Regions from separate parts of the Homo sapiens genome. Here regions 2, 3 and 4 are each linked to region 1. Evidence: fine-mapped expression QTL. A gene starts in region 1. Each other region holds a variant in brackets. All regions are shown on one strand. Distances are from middle to middle.

Region 1 (8,106 bases):
CTTAATCAATTCTGCTATTGAAAGACTCTGATGCATTCTTCAGTATGTCAGTTGCATTTTTAAACTTGAGAATTTCTGCTTGATTCTTTAAAATTATTTCAATATCTCTATTAAATTTATCTGATAGAATTCTGAATTCTTTTTCTGTGTTATCTTAATTTTCTCTGAGTTTCTTCAAGATATTGATTTTGAATTCTCTGTCTGAAACATCACATATCTCTATTTCTCCAGGGTTGTTCCCTGGGGACTTATTTAGTTTGTTTGGTGAGGTCATGTTTTCCTGGGTGGTCTGGAAGCTTTTGGATATTCATTGGTGTCTGGGCATTGAAGACCACCCCAAGAGCCTGCTTAGTACTCTACCTCCCTGTGGCTGAGCTGGTACCTAAGGGGAAGGAAAACATCCTCTTTACTTTTCCTTCTGCTTTTGTCAAGCAGAAGGAGTCTCTCACATTAGCCACCACAGTTGGGAATATACTGGGTCTCACCTGAAACCAGCAGATCTCAGAGTCACACCCAAGAACCACAGTGTACTACCTGAGTATTGCTTCTGGCTATTGAGAACCCAAGGGCTCTTTAGCCAACAGGTGATGGGTCCTGCCCAGACTGTTTCTTTCCCTTCAAGGCAGCAGTTTCCCTTCTGGCCCAGGATGTGTCTAGAAATGTTATCCACAAGTTAGGACCTGGGATGGGGGTCTGATGACTCAGACTGATGCCCTGTCCTACTGTGGCTAAACTGATATTCAAGATAACAAAGTCCTCTTTACTCTTCCCCCTCTTCTCTTCAAGCAGAAGGAATGGGTCTCTTCGTGCTGTTTTTAATCACTCCAGCCACTAGCATTGGGACTGATGCAGACACTAAGGATCCAAATGATTATTTTTGTTTTGTTTTTTTAACTGCATTGGGATTAGGCAACAGAAGGGTCTAATGTGGCTGAGAGTTTTTGAGAGAGGAGCATTTTTAGGAGGGTAGCTGCATTCCAAGTAGAGAGCTCTGCTGGGGTAAAAGAGGCATGAGTGCTAGAAAAGGGCATGCAGTGATGAAGAGCCACTAACAGCACTACCTGGGGTTGGGGTAGGGGTGTCACAAGCACTCCCTTAGCTCCCCTGTCTGGTGTCTCAGTAAGTCGCATGCCCTCCAAGTCTACTGGCTCTGAGCTCAGCATTTGGGCTTGCTTAGGAGTTGCTGTCCTTGTGGCCTAGGCTGCCTTTAAGGTTATTTGGGGCCCCAGAGCACTTTACTGAAACTCAAGTTTTCACCACTGGTATGGGCTATTTCCTCTGAGGGAAATTGGCTGAGTTCAGCCTAGTTTTGCTTTCTGCTATGACAGAGCAGTACTGAGTTCAATTCAAAGTCTCCCAATCACTGCACTCTCCCTTTCCCAAGCCACAAGGCTGCTGCTGCTGGGGGATGGAGGACTGGCGGCATTGGCAAATCAAAACTGTCTTTCCTGGCTTCTTCAGTGCCTCTTTCAGTAATATGAAATTAAAACCAGGTATTGTGGTTACTCACCTGATTTTTGGTTCTTATAAAGGTGCTTTTTGTGTGTGTAGATAGCAGTTAAATTGTGTTCCTAGCCGGGGTGGGGGGTGGGTGGTCAAACCTTCTATTTGACCATCTTGCTTCACCCCTTTCTACTGATACTATTGTTGTTGATATTATTAGGAATGAAAATGAGCCCTGTGAGTTATAATTGTCTTCATTTTGCAGACCAGGAAACTGAGGCTCAGAGAAATATTAAGCAGCCAAAGTCACAGCGATTAAAAGAGGCGGGACCAAACTTTGACGGAGATCAGGACCCACTCCTTTGAGAAATCACCTCTTTTGCTAGCTCCAGCCTAAAAGTGCTATCTAGGAGAAGGTTTATGGGACCCCAGCAGATGTTCAACCAGAAACTTCTGACCTGCAGGGGCTGCAGAGGGGAAATCTGCCCTGATTAGAAGAGATTTGTTTTCCACCCATATTAGTTTGATCTCACATTGCTATAAAGAACTACCTGAGACTGGGTTTCAGAGGCTGTACCGTAGGCATGGCCAGAGAGGCTTCAGGAAACTTACAATTATGGTGGAAGAAGGGAAAGCAAGCACATCTTCACATGGCAGAAGGAGAGACAGAGCGAGCAAAGGGGAAGTGCCACACACTTTTAAATCATCAGATATCCTGAGAACTCACTCACTATCATGAGAACAGCAAGGGAGAAATCCGCCCTCATAATCCAATCACCTCCCACTAGGTCCCTCTCCCAGTGAATTATAATTCAATATGAGATTTGGATGGGGACACAGAGCCAAACCATCTAACCTTGCCATGTCCTACTGTACTTTTTGGAAGTTTTCTGAACTAACATTTCTTGTCTAGAAATATACACACTCAAGATCAATCTAACTATTAAAAACAAAAAATGCTTATTTTCCAGTACCTGTTTTATGTTAGATTCTGGGGTAAAAAGAAAAAGGTACTGACTTAATGTTCCTGTCTATCATTCATTTGTAGCTTGTGCATCCATCCTTTCATCTGTCTATCCATATCACAAACATGTATTAAACACCTGCTGTATGCTAGACACCATCCTGAAGGTGCATTTCTTCCCTAAGTCTTTTTTTTGCCTGCCGGAGAGTACAGTATTCTCAATTCAAGATAAGAAGTGGTGAATAAGAGTGAAGTGCAAATTGGTGAGGACACTTAGACACCGAGTGATTACTTCTGACAGGTTTCCACCACTCAGCTAAGTAGCAAGGTGAAGACTCCGAGGTTGAGTTGTAACTCACAGAGCGGGAAGACCAATAGGCAGTGAGAAAAGAAGTTGCAGTGGCTTCACGTTATAGCAGATGCCTGTGTGTACACATGGGAGCGAATATGGCTTTATGCTGTTTTTCAACCGCTTCAGCCACTAGCATTGGTACTGCTGCACACTAAGGATCCAAATGATTGTTTTTTTGTTTTTTGTTTTGTTTTGTTTTGTTTTGTTTTGTTTTAAATTGCATTGGGATTAGGCAACAGAAGGGTCTAATGCGGCCGGGATGAGACAGGAGAGTTTTTAGGAGGGTAGCTGCATTCTAAGTAAGGGACTCTGCGGGGGGAAAAGAGGCGCAAGCGTTGCAAGAAGGGAGTGCAGGGGGTTGAGCAGGCACCTCTACAGGAAATGGATGCTGTCCAGGTGCTGGTGGGCGCCCCAGGGCTACGTGGCGAAGCAGCTCAGCCGGTCCAATCAGAGTGCGTCCAGGGCTCGGGTTTCGCGATCTTTAAGTGACTGAGGCAGATCCCCACGCGGCACCTGGCCATGCTCTCAGCTCTCCCGCCGCGGTGAGTATGTTTAAGGAATCCTTTCCATTACGGCGGCCCCATACCTAGGTCCCCGTCCGGGACAGAGGAAGCCGCAACGGGTCCCCCCGGGCACCCGGGCCTTTCTCCTGCCTCCCGCCACGTCCGAGGGTCCGGCCGCAGCGCCGCCTGAGCCCCTCCGCGGCCGGCAGTGGGAGGCGGGCTCTCCGAAAGCCGTCGCGGTGGTCCCAGAAGCCGGGTCATAAATAATTCACGAGCCAGGGTCTGGCGAGCTAAGGGAAGGGCGGCGGCAGCGGTGACTAGGGCGGGAGCAGGAGCGGGAGCCGGGTGCACGGTGAGTAGCTGGGTCCTCATCCCGGAGCGAGAGAGGCATCTGCTGACCAGGCGCGGGGCTGAGCGCACTCCTTCCACTGTACTGGGGGTGTACAGTGAGGAGTGGACGGGTTCGCTCTGCGCCCCCCTTACCCTAGCCATCTGCGCCGCCTCCCTGGCCCCTCAGCAGGTGGTGCGGGCCCGGACAGCGGCTGGGGGCCAGAGGAACTGCGGGGAGAGCGTGGTGGTGCCGGTGCCCGTCCAACCCAAACTTTTTAGTCTGAGTGGTGGCCCGCGACGCCCCGCTTGGGTCTTCTTTCCATCCACTGGGGATGGGGGCGGGGGTGGGGGTAGCCGGCGGCCGTGGTTCCGGAGCGGGAGTCGGAGGTGAGTGTGCGAACTGGACCGGGGCCCCAGAGACTTCGGACTCGCTCTCGGGGAGAACGGTGACCGAGGTGAGACTCGCCAGGGTCTTGGGAACGAGTCTGCGGTAAAGGAAACTCTAGGGATGGCCCCGGGGACGTGAGGCGCTGAGCTTCCCTGGCTGAGTGCGGAAATGGGCCAACACTGTGCAGCCGACCACAGCGGGAGTAGGGATATGGGGGTACAAAGCGAGGCCATCTCCCCGCGTCCGTGGGAGAAAGCATGCACCCCTGGCTTGAAGCACCTTCCCAGCCTCTCGCTCCACGGCCCTTCTGCTTGCATGCGCGGGGACCCGCGGCTATCGCTAGATGGAGAACTGGGGTGCTCAAGGCGCACCCTGCCAGAACACGCCGACCGGACAACAAAGAGGAGCGTGGACAGACCAGGAGCTTCACGGCTGTAGAAAGTCAGAGGCTCGGGATCAGTTTCCCCGAAAGCCCGTGTCTGGAGGGGCAGGGAGTCGGATCGGAGGGAGGAACTAGCTCCAGAACCCCTTCTCTCTGGCAAGATCGCCCCCGATCGGTGCCCAACAGGGGCCGCGGCGGGGAACTGGCGCCGACGCGCTCAGAGCAGCCAAGTTACTCCGGCAACCCCCTCCCCTGCGCGGCTGCGAATTCCTGGAGTCTCTTGGCTTCCCGCGCCCGCCCCGCCGCTCATTCTTTTGTGTCCCGCAGCTCGCGAGAGGCTTCCGCCCAGAAGGGAGCTAGGCCTGGAGGGGGCTTGGCCTGGAGGTGGTTTGGAGGTAAAGGGCGGGGAAGCCGGCGCCCCAGGCTTCATTCTGCAACAGGTTGCTCCTGGAGCCCGCTAAGGCGACTGACCTTTCTGGAGAAAGGTTTGCTGGAGTTCCTGAGGGCGGCAGCTGTTCTTTGTTAAGAAAGCAAGTGCACGATCGTAGTTCTTGAGTGCCCCCCGAGACTCATGCGACACGAACAACCGCTGCGATATGTTGGGTTGAATCATAAGAAATTGTCGGTTTTTTGGATGGAAGATGTGAATATCGTCAACCTCATATGATTCAACTTGTGTGATGTTACTCATTTTTCTTTTCTCACCGTCCTTTCTGTCCCGGTTATCCTAGGAGCCCCGGTGGAGTTGAGCTCAGAGTATTGATGCTAGCAGAAGCAGACAGACCCCAGATAGCCTTCCAGCTGCGTGCCAGGTGCTTTACCTATTAGATCGCTAGCCTGCGAACCCTATGCGAAATCCTCCTTTGACAGAGGAGCAGAAGAAGGGTTGGAGAATTCAAACAACTGTCATCTTGGCAGAGTTAGTAAGGGGGACCAGAGCCCCCTTACTGTTGCTGTTGTCTGTCTATTCAGCAGTGCCCTTTAGTTTATTCTTGTTTTTTTTTTCATGTGTTCCATAATTTTTTTCTAAACTTCCTTCTGATTTCTAAACTTTTCTAAACTTCTTTCTGATTTCTAAACTTCCTTCTGATTTTTATACGAGACAGTTTCTTTGTGTTTTAGTACAATGAGGTGAACAAATGCATCAGAGGACAAGCTGAAAACTTTAAACCAAGTTGGTACTGTTTAAAATATAAAGGAAATAGGTTTTTCAGGGAGCAAAGAGCTATTTCTGAGATTTGTTAAGGGTCAAGATACTTTGTTAAAACAGTGGAAGCTGAGTCGGGGGTAATTTTTATCAGATAAAGGACTTCTTGGATTCTGTAAGTTGCCTGTTCACTCTGATGGTAGTTTCTTTTGCTCTGCAGAAGCTCTTTAGTTTAATTAGATCCCATTTGTCAATTTTGGCTTTTGTTGCCATTGCTTTTGGTGTTTTAGACATGAAGTCCTTGCCCATGCCTATGTCCTGAATGGTATTGCCTAGGTTTTCTTCTAGGGTTTTTATGGTTTTAGGTCTAACATTTAAGTTTTTAATCCATCTTGAATTAATTTTTGTATAAGGTGTAAGGAAGGGATCCAGTTTCAGCTTTCTACATATGGCTAGCCAGGTTTCCCAGCACCGTTTGTTGGGAATTGAACAATGAAAACACTTGGACACAGGAAGGGGAACATCACACACCGGGGCCTGTTGTCAGGTGGCGGGAGTGGGGAGGGATAGCATTAGGACATATACCTAATGTAAATGACGAGTTAATAGGTGCAGCACACCGACATGGCACATGTATACACATGTAACAAACATGCACATTGTGCACATGTACCCTAGAACTTAAAGTATAATAAAAAAATATATATACATATACATATATATATGTATATGTATATATATAAAAGGACTTCTTGAAAGGATGGTCCCTGGGTGGCTTAGGTAAGTGGCAGCAAGGCTGGCTAGCCAGGCTTAGGAATCTAGGACATGCCACAGGACCCCTGATGGGTGGGTGGCTGCGGCTGCCAGAACAGGACCCTGGATGTGGCTACTGGCATTGCTGCCATCATTGCTGGAATGAATTAGATACTGTCCTGCTTCAGAGTGCGCAGGCCCAGGCCCAGAAGAAAGCTTCTGATTGGCCCAGCATGGCTCAGCTCCACCAGGACACAGTTTGGGCGCCTCAGCTGACCTCACAATGCAAGGCAGGGCTGCCTCCCACCCAGCTCACAAACGTGGTCTCAGATGTTGGGTATCCCCCATGCCCCCGCCAAAAGCACTCCAGATGACAAAAATCCACTACAAAGCTCTTCTTTAAAAAGAAAGATTCTGAGAAGTTCCATCAAAAGAAGAAAAGAAGAAATGAAGGTGATTGATCACCATATTTGCTTTTTCATTTTTAATTTTTTTTTTTGAGATGGAGTCTCTGTCACCCAGGCTGGAGTGCAGTGGCATGATCTCAGGTCACTGCAACCTCCGCCTCCCGGGTTCAAGTGATTCTCCTGCCTCAGCCTCCCGAGTAGCTGGGACTACAGGTGTGCACCACCACACCTGGCTAATTTTTTTTGTATTTTTAGTAGAGACAGGGTTTCACCATGTTAGCCAGGATGGTCTCGATCTCCTGACCTCGTGATCCGCCCGCCTCGGCCTCCCAAAATGCTGGGATTACAGGCTTGAGCCACCACGCCCGGGCCATATTTGCTTTTAAACCAGTATTGAAATGCAGTTCTCTGGACTCCAGGCTCAAAATCATGTAAGGTCGCCCAGGCTGGAGTGCAGTGGTATGATTATGGCTCACTACAGGCTCAGCTTCCTGGACTCAAGTAATCCTCCTGCTTCAGACTTCCGAGTAGCTGGGACTACAGTTGTGCACCACTACGTTTGCTAATTTAAATTTTTTTTTTTTTTTTTTTTTTTTTTGTAGAGACAGGGCCTCTCTATGTTGCCCAGGCTGGTAGCAATTCTTCATTGAGTACCAACTGTGTTCCAGGCTCTGGGGATACAGAAATAAGCCAGGGACCTGCACAGCAGCTGGGGTAGATCAATTCAAAGCAATATGAAAAGGGCATTTGGGGAGCTTTCACCTTACATGTGTTATTTTCCAATGTGTTTGGGAAGCCTGAAGTGTCCTTGGAAAGTGACATGAATTGACTAGGCGGGTACTCCAGGATCAGAGTACTCCAGGAACAGAACTGTTCTCAAACTTTGTTTGAAGGATCAGTCCCCAGGAAAGCTTGTTAAAAATGCAGATTAATGGGTTTCATCCCAGAAATTAGGTCCATTAATAGTCTGCATTTCAACTAAACACCCCATTTTATCCCGAGACAGATGCTACTCTCAGTGGCTCTCGGACCTAGTGGGGTTTAGCTGGTAAATACTCAGAGCTTCTGTTTTTGGCACAACCTATTAAACCCGAGATAAAAAACTCTTCCTCTTTGACTTGACTTTAATCAGTTTCTAGTATTTCATAGTTAGTGAGATATTAATACTTTCTTAAAATGTACTTTAAAACTTCAGAGGGACCTACATTTTGGAGCAAGATGTAAAGAAATCTGGAAGTGCAACTGCAGTTGCTGTCTATCTCAAGTCATTGTCTCCCATCTTTGCTGCGGTGAGCAGTTATGTTTCACTTCACTGGGAATTTCCCTTCCCCTGCTTTGTCACTGAGGGAGTTGGAGAGCCTGTTTGTTCATAGTTCTTCCCTTGGCAGTTTCTCTCTGTCCTGGGCTGAGGTTTGGTGGAATTACCAGAAAGTGGGC
Region 2 (8,106 bases), 59 kb before region 1:
AGGTAGATAAGAGACAAATGGTTGCATTCTTTTGAGTTTCTGATAAACCTTTCCAAAGGAAGCAATCAGATATGCATTTATCTCAGTGAACAGAGGGATGATTTTGAATGGAATGGGAGGCAGGTTGGCCCTAAGCAGTTCCCAGTTTGACTTTTCCCTTTAGCTTAGTGATTTTGGGGCCCCAAGATTTATTTTCCTTTCACCCTAGCAAAGGAGAAACAGGCGAAAAACTATAATAGGAAACTATATTTTTAAGTCTTTACAAAGAGCCAAGAACATTGGTTGAACTGTTGAGTGATTATCATATTTGTGTGTGTGGTCAGACTCCCACGTGTTTTTTTTTCATTATGCGATTTTTAAAAACTAGGCTTTTGTGTTTTTTTATTGTTATATCATAGTTGTACATATTTGGTAGGTACATGTTATTGGGGGAACCTGCCCCCCAATATTTCAATGTAGGTTCTTTCTATTTTCCGTAAGTGTCGGCCAGCTGAGCAATAAAGAGAAAGAGTACAAAGAGAGGAATTTTACAGCTGGGCCACTGGGGGTGACATCACATATCAGTAGGACCGTCATGCCCACCTGAGCCTCAAATCAGCAAGTTTTTTATTAAGGGTTCCAAAAGGTGAGGGGGTGTGAGAACAGGGAGTAGATCACATGCTTCAAAGGGCAAAAAGCAGAACTACTAATAAGGGTCCAACAAAGATCACAAGGCAAAGGGCAAAAGTAGAACCACTGATAAGGGTCTATGTTCAGCGGCGCACGTATTGTCTTGATAAACATCTTAAACAACAGAAAACAGGGTTCGAGAGCAGAGAACTGGTCTGACCACGAATTTACCAGGGCAGAGTTTTTTCCCCACCCTAGTAAGCCTGAGGGTACTGCAGGAGACCAGGGCGTATCTCAGTCCTTATCTCAACCGCATAAGACAGACACTCCCAGAGCGGCCGTTTATAGACCTCCCCCCAGGAACACATTCCTTTCCCAGGGTATTAGTATTAGTATTCCTTGCTAGGAAAAGAATTCAGCGATATCTCTCCCACTTGCATGTCTGTTTATAGGCTCTCTGCAAGAAGAAAAATAAGGCTCTTTTTGCCCGCCCCCGCTGGCAGTCAGACCTTATGGTTGTCTTCCCTTGTTCCCTAAAAATCACTGTTATTCTGTTTTTGTTCAAGGTGCACTGATTTCATATTGTTCAAACACACATGTTTTACAATCAATTTGTAGAGTTAACACAATTATCACAGTGGTCCTGAGGTGATGTACGTCCTCAGCTTACGAAGATAACAGGATTAAGAGATTAAAGTAAAGACAGGCATAAGAAATTATAAAAGTATTATTTGGGAACTGATAAATGCCCATGAAATCTTCAAAATTTATGTTCCTCTGCTGCGGCTCCAGCCGGTCCCTCCATTCGGGGTCCCTGACTTCCCGCAACACGTGTGATATTTTGACACATGTGTAAAAGGCTTAATGATCAAATCAGAGCAATTGGTATATCCATCACCTCAAACATTTATCTTTTATTTGTATTGGGAACATTACAATTCTTCCAGCTGTATTGAAATGTACAATAAATTATCGTTAGCTATAATTTCCCTACTATACTATAAAATCATAGGATTTATTCCTTCTACCTAACTGTATTTTTGCATGCATTTATTTTTTTAAACCAGTTTTAGGTTCACATAAAAATTGAGTGTAATGTACTGAGTTCCCATATGTTCTCCACCCACCACACTCACAGCCACCCCCACTATCAACGTCCCCCACCAGGGTGGTGCATTTGTTAGAACTGATGACAATTCTACATTGACGCATCATTATCATCCAAAGTTCATAGTTTTCGTTAGGGTTCACTCTTGGTGCTGTACATTCTTTGAGCTTTGACAAATGAGTAATGACATGGATCCACCATCATAGTATCATATGGAATAGTTTCACTGCACTAAATATCCTCTGTGCTCTGCCTCTTCATCCTTCCTTCCCCACAATCCCTAGCAACAACTGAACTTTTTACTGTCTCTATAATTTTACCTTTTTCAGAATGTCATATACAGCATTTGGAATTATACAGTGTGTAGCTTTTCACACTGGATCCTTTCACATAGAAATACGCATTTAAGCTTCCTTCACATCTTTTCATGGCTTGGCAGCTCATTTAAGCATTGAATAATATTTCGTATTCTGGATGTCCCACAGTGTATTTACTCATTCATCTGTTGAAGGACATCTTGGTGCTTTTAAATCTTGGCGATTATGAATAAAGCTGCTAAAAATGTCCACATGCAAGTTTTTATAATTTTTATAGCATCTTTATTGACATGTAATTCATATATCATAAAATTCACCCATTTAAAGTGTACAAGTCAATAATTTCTAGTATATTCACAGAGTTGTACAACCATCACCATGATCAATGTTAGAACACTTTTGTAACCCTCCAAAGAAACCCTATACTCACTAGTAGCCACCCACCCACCCCAGCCTTAGGAAATCACTAACCTACTGTCTATCTATAGATTTATGAACTCTGGACATTTCATGAAAGTGGAATCATACAACAGGTGGTCTTTTGTGACTGGCTGCTTTTACTTAGCATAACATTTTTAAGGTTTATCCATGTCACAGCACATATCAGCACTTCATTCCTTTGTATTGCTGAATAACATTTATTGTATAGATACACCATATTTTCTTTACCTACACATTAATTAGTAGACATTTAGATTGCTTCCACCTTTAGATGCTGTTGTGAACATTCATGTACACACTGTTCTGTAGACCTATAATTTCATTTCTCTTGGGCATATCCCCAGGAGTGGAATTGCTGAGTCACATGGTAACTCTGTCTAACTTTCTAAGGACCTGCCAATCTGTTTTGTAAAGTAGCTGTACCAGAAGCCAGCAGACTATGAGGGTTCCAATATCTCCCACCCTTACCAACCCTGCTATTATCTGTCTTTTTTATGACAGCCATCCTAGTGGGTGTGGTGGCTTGTTTTCATACAAGGTCCATTTCTCTGTTTTACAATGATGTGTATTACTTTAGTAATCGTGAGGGGTGTGTTATTAAAACAAACCATAAAAGTCACAAAGTCCTCTGCTGGGATTTCCATTAGCAAAAGTGCACAGAAATGCAGTTCCAGTTTGGGAAGTTGGGTGGGCATCTGTGGGAGAACAGGGACATGGGGGGAAGTCTTTGCAGCCTGCCTCTATTGCTGTTCTCTGAGGCTCTGACCTCACTCCACCGTTTCCCCAACCACACCTGGCTGCCCTCTATGGGCATGGCGATGGCAGCCTCCTCCACAGCTCATTCTTCATGTGCAGTTCTTTCTCCAGGCTGTGTAGTGTGGTTGGAAGCCTCCTGGCCTGCAGAGTTAGGTAGACCTGGGTGTGAACCCTGCTGTGGGACCTCTGCTAGTGCATAACCTCTTGAGCTTTGCCATCCTCTATAAAACTGAGACACATCTCAGCCTCATGGCGTTGCCGATGGCTAAATGCAAAACAGCTGTCCAGGGTGCTCACAAGAGTTGTGTCCTCTGCCCCCCTTTTCTGCACTTCTGCTCTGTGCATGTGGGGATTGGCCCTCTCTGCCTGCATTTCAGGTTTACTTTCTGGTTTGGGTCTCACTTCACTCTGCTCCTTGGCTAGTGGGCAACAGAAAGCACTACACGATTAGAAGACCTCTAAGGGTATTACAGGAAGATGCTGGAAAGAGCACTGAGCTTTGTTAGGTCCTCTTATAGGCAATGTCAGCCCCCAGCAAGGACCAAACCTTTATCAAAAGGTAAGGTTCAGAACTACGCACCTCAAATATGCTCCAGGTCACCAGTTTAACTTAGTGCATCCAGTATTGCTGGAGTGTACGTGTGATTAGTACTGTGCTCCCGGAGAGTCTCAAACTCCAGATGTCTCAGAGATAGTCAAATGACAGGGGACTTTTTTTTCTTTTTAAGTGCAAACCTAATAATGTGATCATTGTCTGTGTAGCCCAAGTTACAGAACTGAAAGCAATGCTAAGAATTGTAGCAGTCGCTATTAATTGAGGATTTAATGCCTTTAACTCTACTAGTGGTTTACAGACACTATCTTAATCCTCTGGCACTCATGAGCTTCCTTGTAGCCCCATTTCCTTGCCTTCTCAAATGTTGCAGAAGCAATTCCTTGCCCAGTTTGTGTTTTTATTCTGTATTTTTGATGCTTTGACATCTTGGGGCTTTGCTGACCCTGGAGGGACCACCCCTTACTGGACTAGCGAATTCCTAGGAATAGCAAATGTCTGGTGTGTGAGCCAATGTGCCTTTCATATGCAAACCAACCAATCCAGAGCCATACCCCAACCACCTCCTATATCTGTTCTCATACTCCAGGCCACTATCTGCCTGCTCTAATCACCCCAGGGCTGGACAACCGGGGTCAGCCCTAGGGAAAGACAATTAGGGACACACAACCAGGGGCAGCCCCTGTGCCCAAGAGCCTGCTAAGATTATTCAAATTAGACAATCCTAAAGCTGCTGACACTACCTCACCTGTTCCTCCCTGTGGAAACCTCAGTAAAGGACTAACATGGGTGCTTCTCCATGTGGCCCTGCACGCCCTGCTTCTAGGGACCTGTGAGTAGCAAACTTCTTCATGACAGTCACTTTCATGTCTCACCATAACAGCTTAAAACAAATTTGGGATGCCTTTTAAACACTCCTAGAGACCCAGTCTAGAGCCACCCAACTTCCTGACAGCTTTCAGATGATTTCTGGAAGCACCTAATTAACTGTATTAATTCTCTGTATACCTAAAACCCACTAGGGGACTTTCTGTTTCCTGCCATTAACTCTGATGATAGAGTAACTTACTCTGGACTGTGGAGCTGACCATGGACAAAGA[C/T]ACACACTGTTCACCTTGAGCAACCAAGCCCTCTACCAGGAAGCTCTACTCTATTTACACTGGTATTTGGATCCTAATCTACAGTCCCAAAGGCTTGCCTCTCTGAAAGCATTTCCCCAACCACAGAATGTTGCTCTGTCCATTATATGGCCTTTGTTGGCCAGCTTCCAGGTAAAGCTGTTGCCTGAGTAAGTGTTTTGAAATTCCTTGAGGTCTGGATCATTTCCCTGTAGTGACCTGGGCTCCAGGTTTGGTTTCAGTCCCTGGGGGACAAGAATCCAAGACTTCAGTGAAGCTGAACTGAGCCTTCTTTCCATTTATGGAGAAGCCCAGGAGATGCCAGGGAATCTGAGAAAACTTTCTTCTGCCTCCAACATTTTCAGAATAGTGCTTTGGCTCTCCTTGAGGCTTAGAGGAAAGTTTTGGGCCAGAGCCCATCAGATATTCCTACCTATATGTTTCCTGTGGACTCTTTGGGGAAACTTCTCACAGTCTAGGTAGATCCTATAGCATGTTCTAGTAGTAAAAAGATTGAAGTCCAATTTAAGCCACTCAGATCTTCTGTTTCGCTTTTTTTTTTTTTTTTTTCCATCTCACGTCCCATTCAAAGCAGTTGCCTTTTCCCCAGCTTAGGCAAGGACAGCCCCAGGAATAGGACCCGGTGTGTCCCTCATATGCCCTGTTGCACCTGGAGCTGGGGGAAGGGGTGGGTGGCGGAGGGGAGATGTGAACTCAAGGCTGCCTCACCTGACTCTTGGAGTATCTGGCCATGGGTCTTCTATGTGGCAGATGCCCAAAGGTTGGCCCTTATATTAGTTTGCTAGGGTTGCCATAGCAGCATATCTCAAACTGGGTGTCCTACATCAACAGAAATTTATTCTCTCACAGTTCTGAAAGCTAGAAGTCCAAAATCAAGGTGTTGGCAGGACCAGCCTCCCTCTGAAACCCCTGGGGCAGGGTCATATTTTGCCTTTTCCAGCTTCTGGCAGCCCCCGAAGCACTATCCTTAGATAGTGATACCATGACTCCAATCTTTGCATCTATTCAAATGGTGCTCTCTTCTCTGTGTCTGTTTCCAAATTTCCCTTTTCTGATAAGTACAACAGTCATATTGGATTAAGGGCCCCCCCTGGTCCACTACAACCTCATTCTAACTGATTACATCAGCCCCAACCCCATTCCCAAATAAGGTCACCTTCACAGGTTCTAGGGGTGAGGAATTCATTCAACACATCTTTTTGAGGGACACAGTTCAACCCATAACAGCCCTCTTTCTTTTCTCTCTTCCAAGAGGTACCTTTTGTGGGTTCTTCAGAGATATCCACTAGCCTCACTTCCACCCCTGCCCCCACCTGGGGCCTGCTGGCATGATAGATGCACCCTCTGTTCTGACCTCTCCCAGCTCCTTCTCATCTCTTCATCTCCCGCCCCAGGGGCCCGCCCTGGAGTTCTGCCAGGCAGCCTGCTTGGGCAGGGTTGTTTCCAGGGTGGCTCTAGTCCGGCCCCTTCCTTGGTGTTCCCTCTGCCCAGCCAGTCTCTGGGGGTGCAGGCTGCTCCCCAGGCTGCCTGACCATCCTCCTCATGCATCCTGGACATCTTCAGGAAAAAAGCTGACTCTAGTGTGTGACCTCCAAAGTTCAGGAGGCCAAGGTGTCACCCAGCATTGTCACTGCACTCTGCTCTGGCCTTGTAGTGGCCCTGGGTGCACAGTTTAGCAGCTTAGGAGACATTCAGCACGTAGTCAGAAACCAGACTGGCCCATGGACACCCCTTCCCCTCCCCAGAGATTCTCCTGCCCCTTCCCCTCATTTAGGATGAGGAGCCCTGGCTTTTCTCTTTCCTCTCAGAAAAGAAGGAGAAACAAGTTAGGCACAATGGTGTGGGTCTGTAGCCCCAGCTCCTCAAGAGGCTGAGCTGCGAGGATCCCTCGGGCCCAGGAGCTCAAGGCTGCAGTGAGCTATGATTGTGCCACTGCATTCCAGCCTGGGTGACACAGCGAGACTCTGCCTCTAAAAATAATAAAAAGGAGGACAAACACTGTCACAAGCTCCACATCTGTGCATTTGCTTTAAGGGATAGCTTTCTCTGATCAATCTTCTCTGAATTTCTTATCTCTTGTGTAGGTTGGAAGTGAGCGGTGAGCAAGGGTCACAGGTTTTTGCAGATTTGGGCATTTCTGTGGTCATGTGTCTAACGCCTCCTTTTAAAATGTGTGAGAACCCATTGACTTCACTTCTGGGGACTCAGGAAATCTCAATGGAGAAGTTCCATTCAGCATCCTGGTTGGTGGATGAGGTGCCTCGTTCATAGAAAACCCTTGGTAAATGGCAGTCTTGAAAGTCCAGGTTCCAATGACTGCAGTTCCAAAGTGCTGCCATTTCCTTTCATGCATGCTACTAGCAGATATTAGGATTTTTCACCTTTAAGATGATGCAAAAGCCATATGCATTTAGTAGAAACAGTACTTCAAGTACCCATACAACCATTCTGTTTTCACTTTCAGTTATAGCATTCAATACATTACATAAGATATTTAGCACTTGATTACCAAATAGGCTTAGATGATTTGCCCCCCGTGGGCTAATGTAAGTGTTCTGAGCGTGGGTAGGCGAGGCTAAGCTATGGTATCTGGTGGGTTATGTGTAGTAAATGCATTTTCAGCTTACAGCCACAAGGACTGCAGGAAATGTCGTGCCCCTCCAATGCAAGCGCAACGAAAGACAAGCTACCAAGTTTCTGCTCTTTCCTCGGTACTATACTGTTGTCTCCCAGGTCCCTGAACTTGGATAGGTGGAAACTGGCGCATGTGCAAGTGAGCTGAGCCATCCGAAACCCCTTCCAAGAGAGCTTTTGTGACCATTTCATCTAAAAGAGAACCCACTCCATGCCCAGTCTTGCTTTGCCCTTTGTAACTGTTCTTCTGAGTAGTTATCATTACCTGAAACTACATTAAATTATACAGATGCCCACAGTTACATCTCCATAAACCCATCATAAGTTAAAAATATTGTAAACTGAAAATGCATTTAATACACCTAACCCACCAAATATCATAGCTTAGCCTAGCCTATGTTAAATATGCTCAGAACACTTACACTAGCCTACAGTTAGGCAAATCATCTAACACAAAGCTTATTTAGTAATCCAGTGCTAAATATCTTATGTAATGTATTGAGTGCTGTACTGAAAGTGAATACAGAATGGTTGTATGCGTACTTGAAG
Region 3 (8,106 bases), 27 kb before region 1:
AACAGAAAGGTCAAAGAGGAGGCAAAAACATGATTGTAGTGGCTATTTCAGCACAGCAACAGTTCCTTCTCAAATGTCTCCTCTCTATTATAAAAAGAAACTTTGCATCTGAGCCTGATATTTATTTATGCGAATTATTTTGTGGGATGAATGGAAGTCTCCAGAACTTTCACGGAAAGTTCCGCTTCCTGGACAACTGTAAATAGCTCTGCCCTGACAAACTTTGACCAAGTGCAAATTAAGGAACACTCAAAAGGAGCACAAGCAGAGATGAGGACACTCTCAGAACTCCTGAAAGGAGAGGCAGAAGCTCAGAGAGGTTAATCAGCTTATCTGAAGTCACACATCTGGTAGGTGGTAGAGGTGGAACCAGACCCAGCCCTCTGCATCCCTGGCTGGTATTTTTCCTTCTGAAACACAAGAGTGCATCAGGGCAATGTTGCTTCTGCACAGAAAACTGTGGTGCCTACACTGGAGCAAAAGGTGCTCCAAGAACACCACATGAGTGATGACCCGCCCCAAGAGTAGTGCGTGGCAGGGAGTTGGCACCCTCAGATAGGGGTAACTGATCGACTAACCCCACCTTCTTATCACTATGATCTAGGAATAGGGCACTTTTCAGACTTTTTCATTCTCTGCCTTGTTGGGGTAAATTTATGGAATACATTAGACAATTTCCCACCAGTCAAGTGAAAATATGTTTGATGACTTAAAAAATAATCAATGGGCTGGGTGCAGTGGCTCATGCCTGTACTCCCAGCACTTTGGCAGGCCAAGGTGGGAAGATCACTTGAGGTCAGGAGTTCAAGACCAGCTTGGGCAACATAATAAACCCCCCCATCTTTACAAAATTTTAAAAAATTTGCTGGATGTGGTGGTGCATTCCTGTAGTCCCAGTTACTTGAGAGGCTGAGGAGGGAAGACCACTTGAGCCCAAGGGCTTGAGGCTGCAGTGAGCTATGATTATACCACTGCACACTGGCCTAGGTGACAGTGCAGGACCCTGTTTCTTAAAATAATAATAATAATAATCAGTGCTTGATCAATAATGATCCAGTGCTAGACCAAGGGAGACAGACTTATTCTCATTCTGCCATTTCCTTACCTCTAGAACCTCACCTTTCTCATCTGGCAAATGGGACGATGCCTCCATCATTGTGTGGTTCATGAGGGTTAGATGAAATACTACACAGTATATGACACAGAGTCAGTCAGTATTTCTTAAATGAAAGAACGGGCAAATGAATGAGAGGGAGGAAATCATTTGTTCTGCCCTGGATGTGAAATCTGTCCTGTTTCCTCCCAGCCTCACTGTCTCTATCAGCTGTGCAGTAACTGGAACTGGACCATTCTGAATGAAGAATCTGTGGTTGAGGGGAGAGTGTGAGTCTACACACACTATGTGATAAAGGTAGACATGAACATCAAATGTAGAAACCCCCATAGAATCCATTGTCTTCCACTCAATGGAAGTGAGCTCAGGCTCAGTTGAACCCAGAGGAGGAGGGAGAGCATGCTGGGCAGGTTTAAATCCTATACCTGTTCCTTTCCTCCCTCCCTCCCTCCCTCCCCTCCCTTCTTCCCTCCCTCCCCTCCCTTCTTCCCTCCCTCCCCTCCCTTCTTCCCTCCCTCCCCTCCCCTCCCTCCTCCCCTCCCTCCTCCCCTCTCCTCCACCCTCCCCTCCACCCTCCCCTCCCCTCCCTCCCTCCCTCCCTCCCTCCCTTCCTTCCTTCCTTCCTTCTTCCCCATTTTCCTGCTTGAAAGATGGGGAGGGAAGAAAGAGGAAATGTGCATACTCTGGGAAGAGGGTCAGTTTTGAGTCAGAGACCTGGGATTTAATCACTTGTTCCCCACTGACTGACACGGTGACAGTAGAAAAGACACCAGCCATCATGGGGCAGACACTCAATAAATACTTGTTGGAAATAATACATGTTAGTTGCTGGGCAAAGCTCTGTGTGTATTAACTCATTTGATCCTCACAGTGTTATGCTGTATTAGGTGCTAGCCATAATATACAGATGATGGCACGGAAATACAGAGAAGTCAGATAACTCATCAAGGGGACATAGACCGTAAATCACAGCCAATATACCTCCAGAACACACGCTTTTAACTCCTCTGATATAAAACACTCCATGCACACAACTTCCTGGAATCTCCTTTTTCTCATGTGCAGGTGGCTGGTAGGATGGGGCGATGCTTGAGCCTAAGTCATTTCCAGTGCTAGGATTGGGGCTAAGGAGAGAGAAAAGTTCCCCCAAATCTCTGAATACCTCAAAGGCTCATGTCTGACATAGGAAAACGAGGAATACCTCAAAGGCTCATGTCTGACACAGGAAAATGAGGAAGAGGCAGAGATTGCATACCCAGGGTGGACAGTGGGGAAAGCAGATGGGAGCAGAGACTCCAGAGAGTGACATGGAGGTGCAGCTTCTAAGAGGCCCCCAATCTACTGAGCACCAGCTCTGTCCTTTCCATAAAATCCTTACAATGACCATGTAAAATAGGTGCTGTTATTCCCACTTTGTCAATGATGAAATTGGAATTCTGAATGATGAAAAAACATGTCCAAGATCGCACAAGATACTGCGGACATAGGCTTCAACTTACGTCTGTTTGGCCCCAAAGTCCATGTTCTTCCTCCTATGCATACTCCACATTTTTGTCTAGAGCTGACCCTGAGTATAACATACTTGTCATGTCACGAAAACATCTAGGACATGCTGTTGCAGAGCAATGCCTTCTACAGTGCACAGTTACAGTCGTGTGCCACATAACAATATTTTAGTCAACAATGGACCACATATACACACCTTGGTCATCCCATAAGATTATAATACCATATTTTTACCGTACCTTTTCTATGTTTAGATACACAAATACTTACCCATGTGTTACAGTGGCCTACAGTATTCAGTACGGTGACATGCGGTCCAAGTTCGTAGTCTAGGAACAATAGCCTGTACCATATACATAGGTGTGTAGTAAGCTAGACCATCTACGTTTGAGTAAGTGCACTCTGTGATGTTTGCACAACAAAATAGCCTTCAATGCATTTCTCAGAACATATCCCCATCATTTAGCAACACATGACTGTACTTAAAATGTCTTTGAAACACCACCATCAAAGTCATTGCCAACATGGGCTGCTCTGAGTGGCATCTAGAAAGCTGGAGCAGAATGGAAGCTGACTCAAGAAGGAAGGTGGCTGGGAAGCTTAATATAAGCTCCTATAAACCTCTTAATGCTTTCAAGACATTAACACTGAGTGACACCCTGGGGTTTCCTGGCTTTAATTTAAGACTCAGGATGGATTGGCTAACGAAGCTGCTGAGCAGCATGACAGTGTCTATTAGCAAGGAATTTAATGGTCCTTTCATAAATTAAAATATTAAGCTCCCTACAAATCACAAACTTACTCCAATATAGTGCTGACCCTGGGGAAAAAAAATGAATCACAGACCACTGGACCATGAGAAGAATCTCAGAGATTCTGCCCTTGGATGAGGAAGCTGAGGCCTGGAAGTATTAGGTAGTTCCCCAAGTCTGTGTATCTCTGGTCAAGGGCCGAGTCAGGCCTAGAA[T/C]CTCCAGCCCCTGACCCCAGTTAGCACCCAGCATTGGCCCATGGGTCAGGAACAAAAGAGATTTCCACTTCGATTAAAATCTGGACATGGGCAGATAGTTCTGAGCACTTTTTGAAATGATTTGTTTGGTTTATTTGTTTCCAGATTTTTTTATCCATCTCCCAAACTAGACAGTAAACTTTTCCCTCCACTATCTTGGTCTTGCTGTGTCCTGAACACTTGGCTTGATGCCTACACACATAGAAGGTGTTCAATAATATTTGTAGAAGAAAGGGAAGGAGGAAAGAGGGGCAGAAATATCTGTTAGCACCTACAATATACTTCACACTACAGTCACATTTCATTTTCTTTGTGTGTTAATGTATGTCTCACTTTTATTTCCCTCCTTTCCTTTCCCTTCCTTTCTTCCTTCCTCCCTCCCTCCCTCCCTCCTTCCTCCTTCCTCCTCCTTCCTCCTCCTTCCTCCTTCCTCCTCCTTCCTCCTTCCCCCTCCTTCCTCCTTCCCCCTCCTTCCTCCTTCCCCCTCCTTCCTCCTTCCTCCTCCTTCCTCCTTCCTCCTCCTTCCTCCTTCCTCCTTCTTCCTCCTTCCTCCTTCCTCCTCCTTCCTTCCTTCCTTCCTTGACAGAGTCTGGCTCTGTCACCCAGGCTGGAGTGCAGTGGTACAATCATGGCTCACTGCAGCCTTGACCTCCTGGGCTCAGGTGATCCTCTCACATCAGGCTTTTGAGTAACTGGGACTTGAGGAGTGCATCACTATGCCCAGCTAATTTTTGTATTTTTGGTAGAGTCAGGGTTTTGGCATGTTGCCCAGGCTGGTTTTGAACTCCTGAACTCAAGCAACCCGCCTTCTTCAGCCTCCCAAAGTGCTAGGATTACAGGCGTGAGCCATCAAGCCCAGCCTATACCTCACTTCTTTCTAAAATACAGCTATAGTCCCCATTTCCGATGAGGAAACTTAGGTGCAGAGAGGTAAAGTGATGGGTTTAAAGTGACTACTCAACTAACATGTAGCAGAGCCAGATTTGAATCCAGGTTTAGATGCTTATCCCATATTCTTTTCACTACACAACCTGCTTACTGAGAATAGGCACTCACCCATTCAATGCATATTTATTGTGCTCCAACTCTGTGCCAGGCACACTTCTAGGCTCCTGGGATATTTTAGTGAACAAAACAGATCAAGACGCCTGCCCTTGCAGAATTTACATTTCATGGGAATCTAAAATTTCAGTGATGTGGATCAGAGGAAAGGGGAACGGCCCAAAATGAAACACCCAAGAGATGGACCTTTCGGGGCCATCACGTTGGGCTGAGCTTCCTACCATGTCTGTCTCAGGCTTCATGGAAGCTTCCCTCTGGCAGACAACATTTAGGGCATTGGGGAAACACACAGTCTTCACCCGCGCTGGGCCTGGCTCTTGGAAACCTAGTGGGGAGAGCAACTTAAAGCTGACATGTCTCTGGAAGAAGTGGACATTTGGATATATTCAGATTGTCCCATTGTTTTTCTGAAAATCTTGCCCACCCCAGTGAGCCTCCAGCTATGCAAATGAACACTAGAGGTCTTCTGAGGTGGAAGCATTTGAGACCATGGCTCCAAGAAGCAAACATGCTCTGAACACTGTTGGGAAAGTCTAGCTCTCAGTTGGATGGAGACGAAAACTCGGGCATGGGTCCTGGAAGACAATGGGGGAGACGGGGCAGAGGCTTTGCCCCGCCACTCCCATGGGAGATGCGAATATTAGCATCCTTCTCATCTGAGGGGTAAGATCTTGAAGCTAATGAAACACTTCCTGGGACTCTTAGGAATTTCTAGGAACGTGCATAGCCATTTTGAAGTCCGAATTATAGCCCCGCTTGGGGGAGAAGGCCATTCTCCCAAGATCTATGCAGCAGTCCCTGGAGCTCCAAGTTTTGAGGGCTCTGGAAGAATCTGGAGATAGCGGTGGCAGGGAAGTTGGTGTCTCAGGATGGGCTCGGTCAGCAGGGGCAGTGGAAGGGCCTCATCAGGTGGCTTTGTTGGCCATGACCATCAGAGCTAGAGCCTAAGAACATGTCAGGCCCTGAGTGGTGGGGGACCCCCAGAAATGCTGCATAGGTGCTGTAAGAGGCACTTGATTTCCTGCTGAGGCAAGAGGAGGGCAGGGCATGGAGTCTTTCTAGCTGGGATGTAAGTGTAAAGGAGACCTTATTTTGTAGACCCAGGGTGTTGAGGCCAGTGGACAGTTGCTACATATAATAGTTGCACTTTGCTTGCCAGCAACTAGGGGGAAAGAAGCAGCACAAGAAGAGGTTAAACCTAATGGATTATTCCAAAATGCCAAGCCCATGAACCAGCCCTGAGTACCCACCTGGGTGACTCCTGTCAGGCTCCTCTCTCCCCACACCTTTCTCCTCCCCAACCCTCCTTCTGGGGTAATCTTCTTACAGCTAATGTCAATCATTTCTTCCTCTACAATCCTCAATGTCTCCCCATTGCCTTCAGATGGTCCCAATTCCTCAGCATGGCATGTGAGCGCCTCCACATCCCAAGCCCCTCCAACTTACTGCTCTAGATTCCTCTATCATTATTCATTTTTTACCAACATTATGTCCCAGCCCACACGATCCAGCCCCACCATACCACTGACTGAATCTGGACACGCCTGTGTGTGCTAACTCCTCTGCCCAGGGCACCTCTCCTCTTAGCCTTGTTCTTCATCGGACACACTTTTCATTCTAATGAGTTAGCTGGAGCATCATAGCCCTGGGAAACATTTTCTGGAAGGTTTCATACGGGGTTGAACTGAGACTTCCTGCCTTATGGGCATGCTTATCTTGTACTCTCCCTTTATTGGTGCATGTAGAATTCAAAGTGGCATTGATTTGTTCCCCCCCACTAGACAAATGACATTCTTGAAGGCCTGACTTGGTGTTAATTACCTCTGCATCCTTACAGCCTAGTACAGTTGGATGCAAAGCAATGCTCTGAAGAGTTTGTTTAGTGAAGGAAGGAAAGCGTGTGGATGAGCTATGGTCTTGATCAGTATTGCATAGTCACTCAAGGGCCAGCACAAAATTTAAGGGCGTTCCCAAATAGCTCATTAATTATAGTAAATAATACTTAATGCAATATTTTAAAAATCCATATTTATGCCTCAAGCTCCATGATACACATGCCTCGAATTTAACATACAGACAGGATCTGAACCTGTACTTGCATGGCAAATCACTTGCCTCCCCTTAATCCCAGTGAGTGAGCAATGAGCTGCGACTTTGAGGGACTTTACACAGTACATGGAATATGATGAGTCCACACAGTACACGAGTGGCTGAGTTAGCACTGCCACCATGAGACTGTAGAGGAGGGGATGGATTACAAAAGGAAGATGAGGGCAATGTTGAAGGTGGTGTGTTAATCAATCAGGGATCACCAGCAGCCAACTCTGGCTAATCATACTCAGAAGAGGAATATATCCAAAGGGTATTGGATGGCTCCTGGCCCTGTCAGGAGGCTGCAGTTCGGAATCAGCACTCCAGGTCAGGTACAGCCTGATCAGGACACCACTGCTGGCACCTGGCACCACCCACACCACCACCCCTGCCGCTACTCTGATGTCTGATTGGCCTCATGTCCTGCATCACACACTCCAGGGACAAAGTCCCGGGCAGAAGTGGCCAACGAGCCAGGCCTTGAAAGGGTCATGCTTGGGTGTGTGACAGGTGCATGGAACGACGATTGTTAGGTTTTTGTGGTGAAAAGTGAGTAGCTGTGTCCCACTGCTACTCTACACAAATGGGGGGTCCCCAGCAAGAAAAGGGGTTGCATGGTTGGATCCACATGACGAATACCATAGATGAGGCTGAATTTTCCTCTTGGGAGACTGAAGTTATTAATTAAAATAGAGAACTCTGGAGAAGGAACAAACTTGTATTTTTTTTAAATGGCAGAAGGAAAATACTAAATTGGTTTCACTTTTAGGAATGTATTTGGCCCCATCTAGGATGCATTTGGACTGTGTTTTATTGTGAGGACAAGCTGTGGGGAGACTGAGGCCCTTTTGTACTTCCCTGCACAATTTTACCAAAGAGCTGCCTCTCTCAGGGGTGGGATTGGGGTGGAGTCAGAGCTGCGCTATGATCCGTGCCTCTAGCATCTTTATGATATTACATTATCTGGTTTATCTAACCAGTCATAGACCTGTAGGATGGCAGGGAGCAAGGATCCTTCTAAGGAAGGATCCTTGTGCTGCCCTAAATACAATCAGAGGTTGAATGGTCAGGAGGAGAGCACCAACTCTTACTGGAACCCTCTGCTGTGCAGGTGCCATGCATGCCTTGTCTCATGTAAGACTCATGACACCCACCCAGCAGTGCTACCATTATTAGTTCTACTTTACAGTTGAGGAAATGGAGGCTCGTAGAAGGTTAAGTATAAGAAGTTCAAGATGACATATGGAGTTAGATGTGTCAGAATCAGATTTGAACCCAAGTTGGTCTACCCCAGAGACCCTGTTGCTGCCTGGCCAATAAAAGCCAT
Region 4 (8,106 bases), 78 kb before region 1:
TTTGCGTGAAGTATTTGCTGGTGAGGAAGTTATGCAGTGTGAGAAGAATAGGTGAGTTCAGGATGATTCCAGGGTTTCTGGGTTGGAAGATTTGGAGGAAGAACTGGGACGTTGACTTAATTTTTGTTGTTAGGTGGCAGTTCCCTGTTCACAGAGGTATTTGTTCATATAACTTTTAGTTTAAATGATGTATTTTTTTTTTTTTTTTTGAGACGGAGTTTTGCTCCGTCGCCCAGGCTGGAGTGCAGTGGCGTGATCTCGGCTCACTGCAAGCTTCGCCTCCCAGGTTCACGGCATTCTCCTGCCTCGGCCTCTCGAGTAGCTGGGACTACAGGCGCCCACCACCACGCCCAGCTAATTTTTTGTATTTTTAGTAGAGACGGGGTTTCACCATGTTAGCCAGGATGGTCTCGATCTCCTGACCTCGTGATCCGCCTGCCTCGGCCTCCCAAAGTGCTGGGATTACAGGCATGAGCCACCATGCCTGGCCTAAATGATGTGTTTTTAAATGTGTGGAATAACTGTGTGCAAGGTCATAGAGGAGATGCTGAAGAGAGAAAAATAAAGGATGTCCTTCAAGGCCTCATGTAACTACAGGGGTCCAAATAGGTGAGCAGAGGGTTTGGAGGGACAGGAGAGGGGGGTTCTTCTAAACTAAAAGCTTGAAGGATGAAACTGGCCCAGGGCAGACTGGTGGAAAGGGCACTCCAGAAGGGCCAGCATGAGTTAGATCATGGAGACCTGGAAAAGCGTCTGGAGAACTAGCAGCTCAATATGGCAAGTGTGGAGTGTGCTTCAGAAAGAGGGAGGAGAGGAGAGTTGGGCTGGACTGGAGTCCTACCTGAAAGTGGGTCTGTGCTCATCATCTGTACTTAACCGGAAGCGAAAATAAAGTAAAATAACAATGTGTATAATCACTGGGAAATTATTTTTTTCATTATAAGAACACTATTAGTAATAAGGATTGCATTTTTTTCAACCAACTAGGTAATTCATAGTGGGGCCTGTACGTGTTCTCTTGTTACGCATATTAGTTAAGAAGTTAGGCTAGGCATAGTGGCACATGCCTTTAATAATCCCAGCACTTTGGGAGGCTAAGGCAGAAGCAGCGCTTGAGCCCAGGAGTTCGAGACCAGCCTGGGCAACCTAGTGAGTCCCATCTCTACAAAAAATATAAAAACAAAAAGTTAGTAAGCGTCACTCTTGCTTTCAAGGAGGATCCAGTCTAATGGGGATAAAAGCTTTAAGCACGTACTGCAGGGCAGGGCCATTGACTCAGGGGTCATGTTATGAGAAGTACATTCAGGATGACGACCTGAGTGTTTGCTCAGAATGTCTTGGAGGTCAGGAGAACACAGACTGGAGAACATGCAGGAGGGTGTTGAAGTCAAGCTAAAGAGAGGGAGGGGGCTGTCTCTCAAAGCTGCATCAGATTCATCACGTTGTAAAAGAGACAAAAGACAGCGGTTCTGGGGGTGAGGGCAGGAGAGAGGGATTACTACAAGAGAGCTGGATGTGTCATTACCTCCATCATGGCAGTAGTGTGACCAGGTGTATGCACATGTCAGAACTCATCAGATTATACATTTTAAATGTGTACAGCTGATGGTGTGTCTTTTTTGCCTCAAAGAAGCTGTTCTTACATGGATTGAATGTATGATTCAGATGAGTCTCTCCAGGCCCCAGCCCAGCTGTCCCCAAAGCCAGGCTCCAGGATCTCTGTGGCCTAAAATGAACATTGGGGGTTTTGTTTATTTGTTTGTTTGTTTTTAACCTCTGGTTTGGACTTCCCAGAGATGATGATGCTAAACCATCTGTAGCTGAAGTGACTACAGATGACAGGTGGAATGTAGTAAAGTCTTCTTGGCCCACTCCCTGATGTTCTGTATTGGAGCAAGTGTTAATGTTTCAGGACTGCCAACAGTCATGTTAGGTCTTGATTATATAGAGAGGAGCCGTAATGTAGGAGTTGTGATCTTTCTGCAGTTGGGTGATGGCATTGTTTGTGTGATACGAGCAATGTAATGTACCCTTCCATAAAGTTGAACAAACAGATGATTAGCCTCTAAGTTTTATTATAAATGATGGCTGCTTATACAACATGCTATTTGGTTATCATTTGCTTTATCGGAAAGCATGGATAATGGGCACTTTTTTCAGCACCACTGTATTGGTAAGTTTGTATTTATTAATAATTGGAGAAAAGTCTTTCTCTAATTTAATGGATCTATTTTATCACAGGCCTTTCCACAGAAGAAAACCTGTCTGCCTCCATCACCAAACAACCTATTCATCAAAAGGAAAATATCATACCATTACTTGTGACAAGCAATTCTGATCAGTTTTTGACAACTCCAGATGGTGACGAGAAGGACATAACGCAGGACAATTCTGAATTAAAACACAGATCCTCAAAGAAAGATTTGTTAGAGATAGACAGGTTCACAATTTGTGGAAACCGAATTGACTGAATCTGTGGCTTCATGCGCTGAAGAAGCTGGGTCCTGGGGCAACAAGTGCTGTGTTGCCAGGACAAATAGATGCTAAACATGGCACTTAAATATTTATTTAAAAACTTAAATTATTATTGGCAAGCAAATCTTAGTATCTTTCTTCCAGTAATATGGCCTGGCTGAGGGTCAGACCACAGGACAGGAGCGACCTCCGGCCTTGACTGTCTGGGAAGCTTGATGGATTATAAAACTTCCTCCTGCCTGGCCAAGCAGCAGCATCATTTCCAGGACCCAACAAAGGCAACATCAAAATCTGTTTTGCTTTGTCAGTCTGGGCTTCCAGAATGTTGAATTTGCCTCAAGGCCTCTTCAGTATAAGGAAATACCTGGAAAACTGTGAAACTTTTACCACGACGTAATCTTTCCAGTCTCATACTATTTTCACAAACAGTTTTCAAACGTTACTTCATCTGCCAAAGCATTAAAAAAATTAAACATAAGTCAAGATAAATGTTCTTACCACCAGAATAACCCTTAAAGATGTATCTTAATTAATCAGAATAAAAGGCTACCTTAAATAAGACATGATGAATAGTAGCATTTTGTAGGGTTAAAAAAAAA[T/AT]GCTAAACTAGTTTATTTATTAAAAAAATAATTAATGAAGGCTATGCATTACTGGGAAAAATCCTTCATAATTTTTCAGTTTACTCTTTAAAGCAAAATGTGAGCTGTATGTCATTTAATTGGTGGATAAAACAAATTTCCTTACAAAAGGGCACTTTTTACACCAAGGAAGCAGAGCAGTGTTAACTTTAAGGTATACTTAACTGATTTTGCTTTAAAACTAATTACTTCATAAATTATTACAGCTAAAAGGATTCGATGTTGAACAGGCTGAAAAATTGTCAATGTACAAAATTCAAAACTGTCAACTTTAACTGTAAAGTAAATGCTCCAAGTGTGTTAGACAGCATCATCTTGCTTGGGCTTACCAAATGCATTAGTCTTTGTGTTTGGGTCGACAGCGAGTGTGCCTGTGCTGGGGCAGGGTGTGTGTTCTGTGGGAGGGTGTCTGTGGGGATGTGACTATCAGGGTGGGCCTGTGCTGGGGATGGGGCAGGCCTGGGTCTGGAGAGGATTTTGTGTGAAAGTAAATGGGGTGTTTGAGGCGTATGGGTGGCTGTTGGTGTGGGGAGGCATCTGTGTATGGCTGTTGGGAACAGCAACCAAAAGGTGCTTTTTGGTTTTATTTGAGATGAAGATTGTGTTTCCGCTTAATTACTAGTTTGTGGTCTATATCATAGAAGTTATTTCCCACCCCATTTTATCTTGACAACCGTGTTTGCATTTCTGTAAAACTTCTACAACTTCTGGTGTCAGAACTGTCCAGAAGATGGTACTGTTAACTGTTATTTCCTTTGATGTTTTGATTTTGAAGTTTAGCTCTCATGCAAATGTTTCAGGCGTACATACATAGGCAGAAAGCAATTTTTAGGTGATTTGTCTGTTTCTTGGATGAAATATAAAGCAAGCTTTAATGTTCTGACTTGTTCATTTGAAATACAAAAAAGTAAGTGAATTTTAATGTTTTGCATTAACTAAAGAAATCTGAAGATTAATGTTGAGGAAATTGTATGGACATGCCTTTGTGAAACCAGGAAGTATTTTAAGTTAAAAATGAAAAAGGTTTTAATTGCTTTGTGTGTGTTTTAATGGAGCCCCATTTTAGAATTATTTTTTCCATCTCCCTTTACCAACAAAAGGAACAATGCCACCGTGAATGGAATAGTTTGGGGAAAGCTTTGCCAAACACAACCCTGATTTCAGAGCAGGAACATGGTTTGGATAGATCTTCAGTTCCGCTTGAATTATTCTGTTACTGCGCTGTCATTTTCAGAAGATTTCCATTCCTTTGCAGATGCTGTTGGGAGTTCGGGATTATGTTCATTTCTTCTGTTTTAATGGCATTCAGTACTAATTTTATAAGTGCATCTTGTGTGAATCTCAATAAATTCAGTTTTGTAATCTTTTTTAAAAAGGTCACTGAATTTATTTTAATATTTACTATTGTATTTGGTAGAGTGAATTTCCCACTGTATAATAAGTATTTATTTGTAATTCACAAGTGATAGAGCTATCTTAATTTGAATTATTGCTTTGGTCTTAATGGTGGCAAAATGTTTAATTTTGTCTTTGGAAAAAATAGGCTCGGCCTTGATTATAGACCATTTAATATTTCTCAGCAAATGAAGGTATTTGCATTTTACAAGTGTTTTGAATGTCACACAAAATATTTTTCACATCTGGGAGTCAAGTTCAAGACAGTGCTTTGGTTTTAAAAAAATCTAATGAAGGCACAGGATAGGCCAGACCCTTATTAGGTTTTCCTTTAGAATAAGTGTAAAGACCAAGTGTCACTGATACGCTTGTCCAGATTTTCTTGTGGACTTTGGCCAGTATTTAGAGTTTATATTCATGTTACATAAAGTGAAAGAAACTTGCTATAATTAGGCCATCAAAATATATCCTGCCACTCCTGGTAACTCAGCAGAGGAGGAGATAAATTTACAAAATAATGTAATATCTCTACATTGTTACATGTTTTCAACTATTTTTTATCAACAAAGATTTGTTAATCACTTCCTATGTGTCAGAAACTGTTCTAAGTGGTGGGATCAGCAATGAGCAAGATAAGTCCCTGTTCGTCTGTGGAAGACTGATAGGAACAAGTCGATGAAATAATGTCTGCTGGTCACAGAGTGTCCACTGACCAAATGATCTCTCAGGCTTATTTCAGCTCTAAAATATAGTTCTTTAAAACGTTTGTGTAAGTCTGATTTTTTTCCTATTGGATTAGCTTGAAATAAGATAATTGTATAGCAATTTTACAGTGCTTCTATAAAATAGAAATAAGAAAAGACTTTCTCCCTGAAGACTGCTAGTTGTCCAGCAGAATCCATTCTCCTGTTCCATTGTGTAGAGTTGTAGCTGGGCATGTGCTGCTTGCTGGGGACTGCATTTCTCAGCCCCTCTTGCTGTTACCTGTAGCCAGCTGACTCATTCTCCCAGGGGATGTAAGTTGAAGGGTGTATTCCGCTATTGGGCCAGGACCCTTAAGACCATGGGTGAGTCCCCCTCACCTCCTCTGTCCCCTTCCCACAGGTGGAACCCAGAGAAGGTAGTGACCTTGTCCCAGTAGGTGCCCATCATGGCAGAGCCATGAGAGAGAAGGAACCTGGGTCCCTGAATGCCGCTGTGGAGCAGAGTTGCTGGTCAGCTTGGAAAATTCCGCTTGACTATACATAAGAGAGAAACTTTTGAAATGCCATTGTTTCTAAGCCACTGAACCTGGAGGTTCTGTGTTCTGTTCATGAAGTTTAGCCCACATTAGTACATTAGGAAATCTGAGAGGGACTATTTAGAGATCTTTACATAAAAGGAGCAAGGAGTTAGACCTATCTTGCTAAAACACATTCTTCTGAAAATTCTCTCTGGATACTCATTATTTATTATTTATATGGAAAAAGATAAAGATTACTCCACCCCACTTTTTCAGAGGTCAGACTCTCAGCACCCTTGGCTGTCTTGAACTGAACATTAAACTTGCCCATAAGTGGCAAAGTTCTATTTGTCCATATACTCTATCAAATAGACATTTCTTGCCCTTTATCTCAGAAAAGTGTGTATAGTAAAAGAGTAAAGTGTAAGTAGAGCTTAACAGCAAGGAGAAGTAGAAGCAAGAGGAGTTAATCAAGAGAGCAGTAAAAATATACCTGACGTCAGTGATGCCATGCCTGTGATTGCCAATAAACTGTGTTACAGGTCAATGTGATGTGTGGTATGCAGTAAGTGAGATCTAGGATGATTTAGATTGTGTTCATTACATACTATTAAGGATTGTGTTTGATACAAATTAAGGTTCGTACAATTGAGGGGAAGTTGTTCAGAAAAAAATGGCGTTCTCAGGGACCTTGAGTTATCTGAAAAGTTTGCTTATAGGGAGGAACTATTGCTTAGCAGTGCTGAGCAAACAAGGCATTGCTGTTCTAAATTTTATTAAGAGAGTAAATGTATCAGCAAGTTGGCAAAAGGCACAGTTATGCATAGTGTAGTAAAGTTGTATTTGAGGTTTTTGATATTTAATGACAAGGTAGGTATCAATACAATATGTTTTGCTTATTTATATGTTTTGTTTCTTGGGTTTTCTTGTTTGTTTTTTGTTTTTGGCTTATAAGGAAACCAAGGGAGGTCTTGAAGGCCCCTTTGGCCTCTTTTTAGAGGTATTAGCTCAGGGACTACAGAATGAATGAGCTCTTGCAGTGTGAATAATCTTCGAAGTGGATGGTTAATTTTGAAACTGCAATTATTTTCAATAAGCACATTCTCATTCCATTTTTAATATGTCAACATAAGAATGTAAATACTGGGAAGATTAGAAATCGCCATAATGTCAGGTTTAACCAGATAAGTGAAATGTATAACAAGGAAAAGGCATAAAAAGCTTGTTGGACTTACTTTCACAGATATTAATTGCACTCACTGAGCAGAGCACAGAAATGAAGGAGCTGTGCTTTCTGCCCATGGGGCTTAACTGTAATCTGACAGTGAAAAGTCCAAGATTCTTAGCAAGGCACTAAAGACTGGGGGGCTGACCCGGCAATTACAGCCCTGTGTGATGAGTACCACCATAAACCACGCCTCTGGCTGCAGCAAAACATTCAACCACATTCACTGCTGTAGCCCTTGCACCTCGTTCCTGGCACACACAGGCAGGCAATAAACATTTATTGGATGAAGAAAACATAGGGGCCATTGCAGAAGGTGTGCACTTGGGCCGCCTTGAAACAAGTAGGAATTAGATGGATAAGAAGGGAGAGGAAGGGCAAGGCACGAATGAACAAAAGAGGAAAGAGCACAGCGGAAGCTGCAGCGCAGGTTTCCTTCACTCCCCATTAAGTGCCAGCTGTCTTGCTGGGAAGATGAGGAGGGAAGCTTCCGTCCCATCCCTGGGGAAACGAGATGGAGGATGGAGGCAGGGGCTAGATCTCAAGAGCGCTCTTAATGCCTTGCTAAGAATCTTAGACGGTTAATCCTATAGACAAAGGGTGGAGGAGCTTAAGTGGAATTTTAAGTTGTTGTAATTATCAAATGAGAAATGAAAAAAAAAACTACTTGGTAAACTCTGAAGTGCTATGAACAGATCAATGTTTTAGAAAAGTCAGGGTGGTGTCCTTGTAAAGGATTATTGTGTAATCGCTTTTGTGTTCGTGTGAAAGCAGGGCTAAGCTCATTTTCTACATTCTTCTCATTGAACCTTTATGTCTCTCTAAAGCAGACACTTACCCCATTTTATAAGTAGAAAACTGTGGCTTAGAAAGGTTAAGTAACTTGTTCAGGGTCACACAAGGAGCAAGGAGCACAGCAGAAAGTTAAACCGCCTTCCTGAACTGGAAAACTGGAGCTCTCAAGCTCTCTGCCTTCTGCTATTTACGGAGAAGGGAGAAGCCAGATAAGGAAACCCCTTGAGGGAAGTGCCTGCAGCCACTCACAGCAGAGTGCGAGGACTTCAGGGATGTAGGGTGTACTGAGCTCTGGGATATTTACCCCTCTAAGATACTCTGGAGGGCTAGCCTGCCGTGTGATGTTGCAGTCAAGA

Which allele goes with the higher level. Positions count from the first base shown, and alleles are read on the strand shown. Sizes are in standard deviations (SD) of each study's normalised expression.
For the expression in thyroid of the gene that starts at base 3,256 in region 1, T is the high allele of the variant in region 2 and C is the other (moderate effect, 0.58 SD a copy in GTEx).
With allele T in place of C in region 3, the expression in skeletal muscle of the gene that starts at base 3,256 in region 1 is lower (small effect, 0.30 SD a copy in GTEx).
For the expression in transverse colon of the gene that starts at base 3,256 in region 1, allele AT in region 4 goes with a higher level than allele T (moderate effect, 0.45 SD a copy in CEDAR).

Evidence for each region. PIP is the estimated chance that this variant, and not a neighbour inherited with it, causes the effect.
Region 2: its variant is the best candidate, but not a certain one, in a credible set for the expression of PROM1 in thyroid (GTEx, PIP 0.82).
Region 3: its variant is the best candidate, but not a certain one, in a credible set for the expression of PROM1 in skeletal muscle (GTEx, PIP 0.83).
Region 4: its variant is the best candidate, but not a certain one, in a credible set for the expression of PROM1 in transverse colon (CEDAR, PIP 0.88).

The regions. Positions count from the first base shown.
Region 1 is chr4:16,079,173-16,087,278 of GRCh38, reverse strand. PROM1 (prominin 1) reads left to right here and starts at 3,256. Exons shown (of 28, transcript NM_006017.3): 1 at 3,256-3,301. RefSeq lists an enhancer at 7,981-8,070.
Region 2 is chr4:16,137,987-16,146,092 of GRCh38, reverse strand. No RefSeq gene overlaps it. Among named protein-coding and RNA genes, the nearest start is that of PROM1, 58 kb to the right of the region's middle. The variant C/T (reference allele first, on the strand shown) is at 4,885.
Region 3 is chr4:16,106,236-16,114,341 of GRCh38, reverse strand. LOC107986261 (a long non-coding RNA gene) reads left to right here. Exons shown (of 5, transcript XR_001741597.2): 5 at 1-466. Among named protein-coding and RNA genes, the nearest start is that of PROM1, 26 kb to the right of the region's middle. The variant T/C (reference allele first, on the strand shown) is at 3,588.
Region 4 is chr4:16,157,673-16,165,778 of GRCh38, reverse strand. TAPT1 (transmembrane anterior posterior transformation 1) reads left to right here. Exons shown (of 14, transcript NM_153365.3): 14 at 2,242-5,274. The coding sequence ends at 2,471. Among named protein-coding and RNA genes, the nearest start is that of TAPT1, 65 kb to the left of the region's middle. The variant T/AT (reference allele first, on the strand shown) is at 3,075.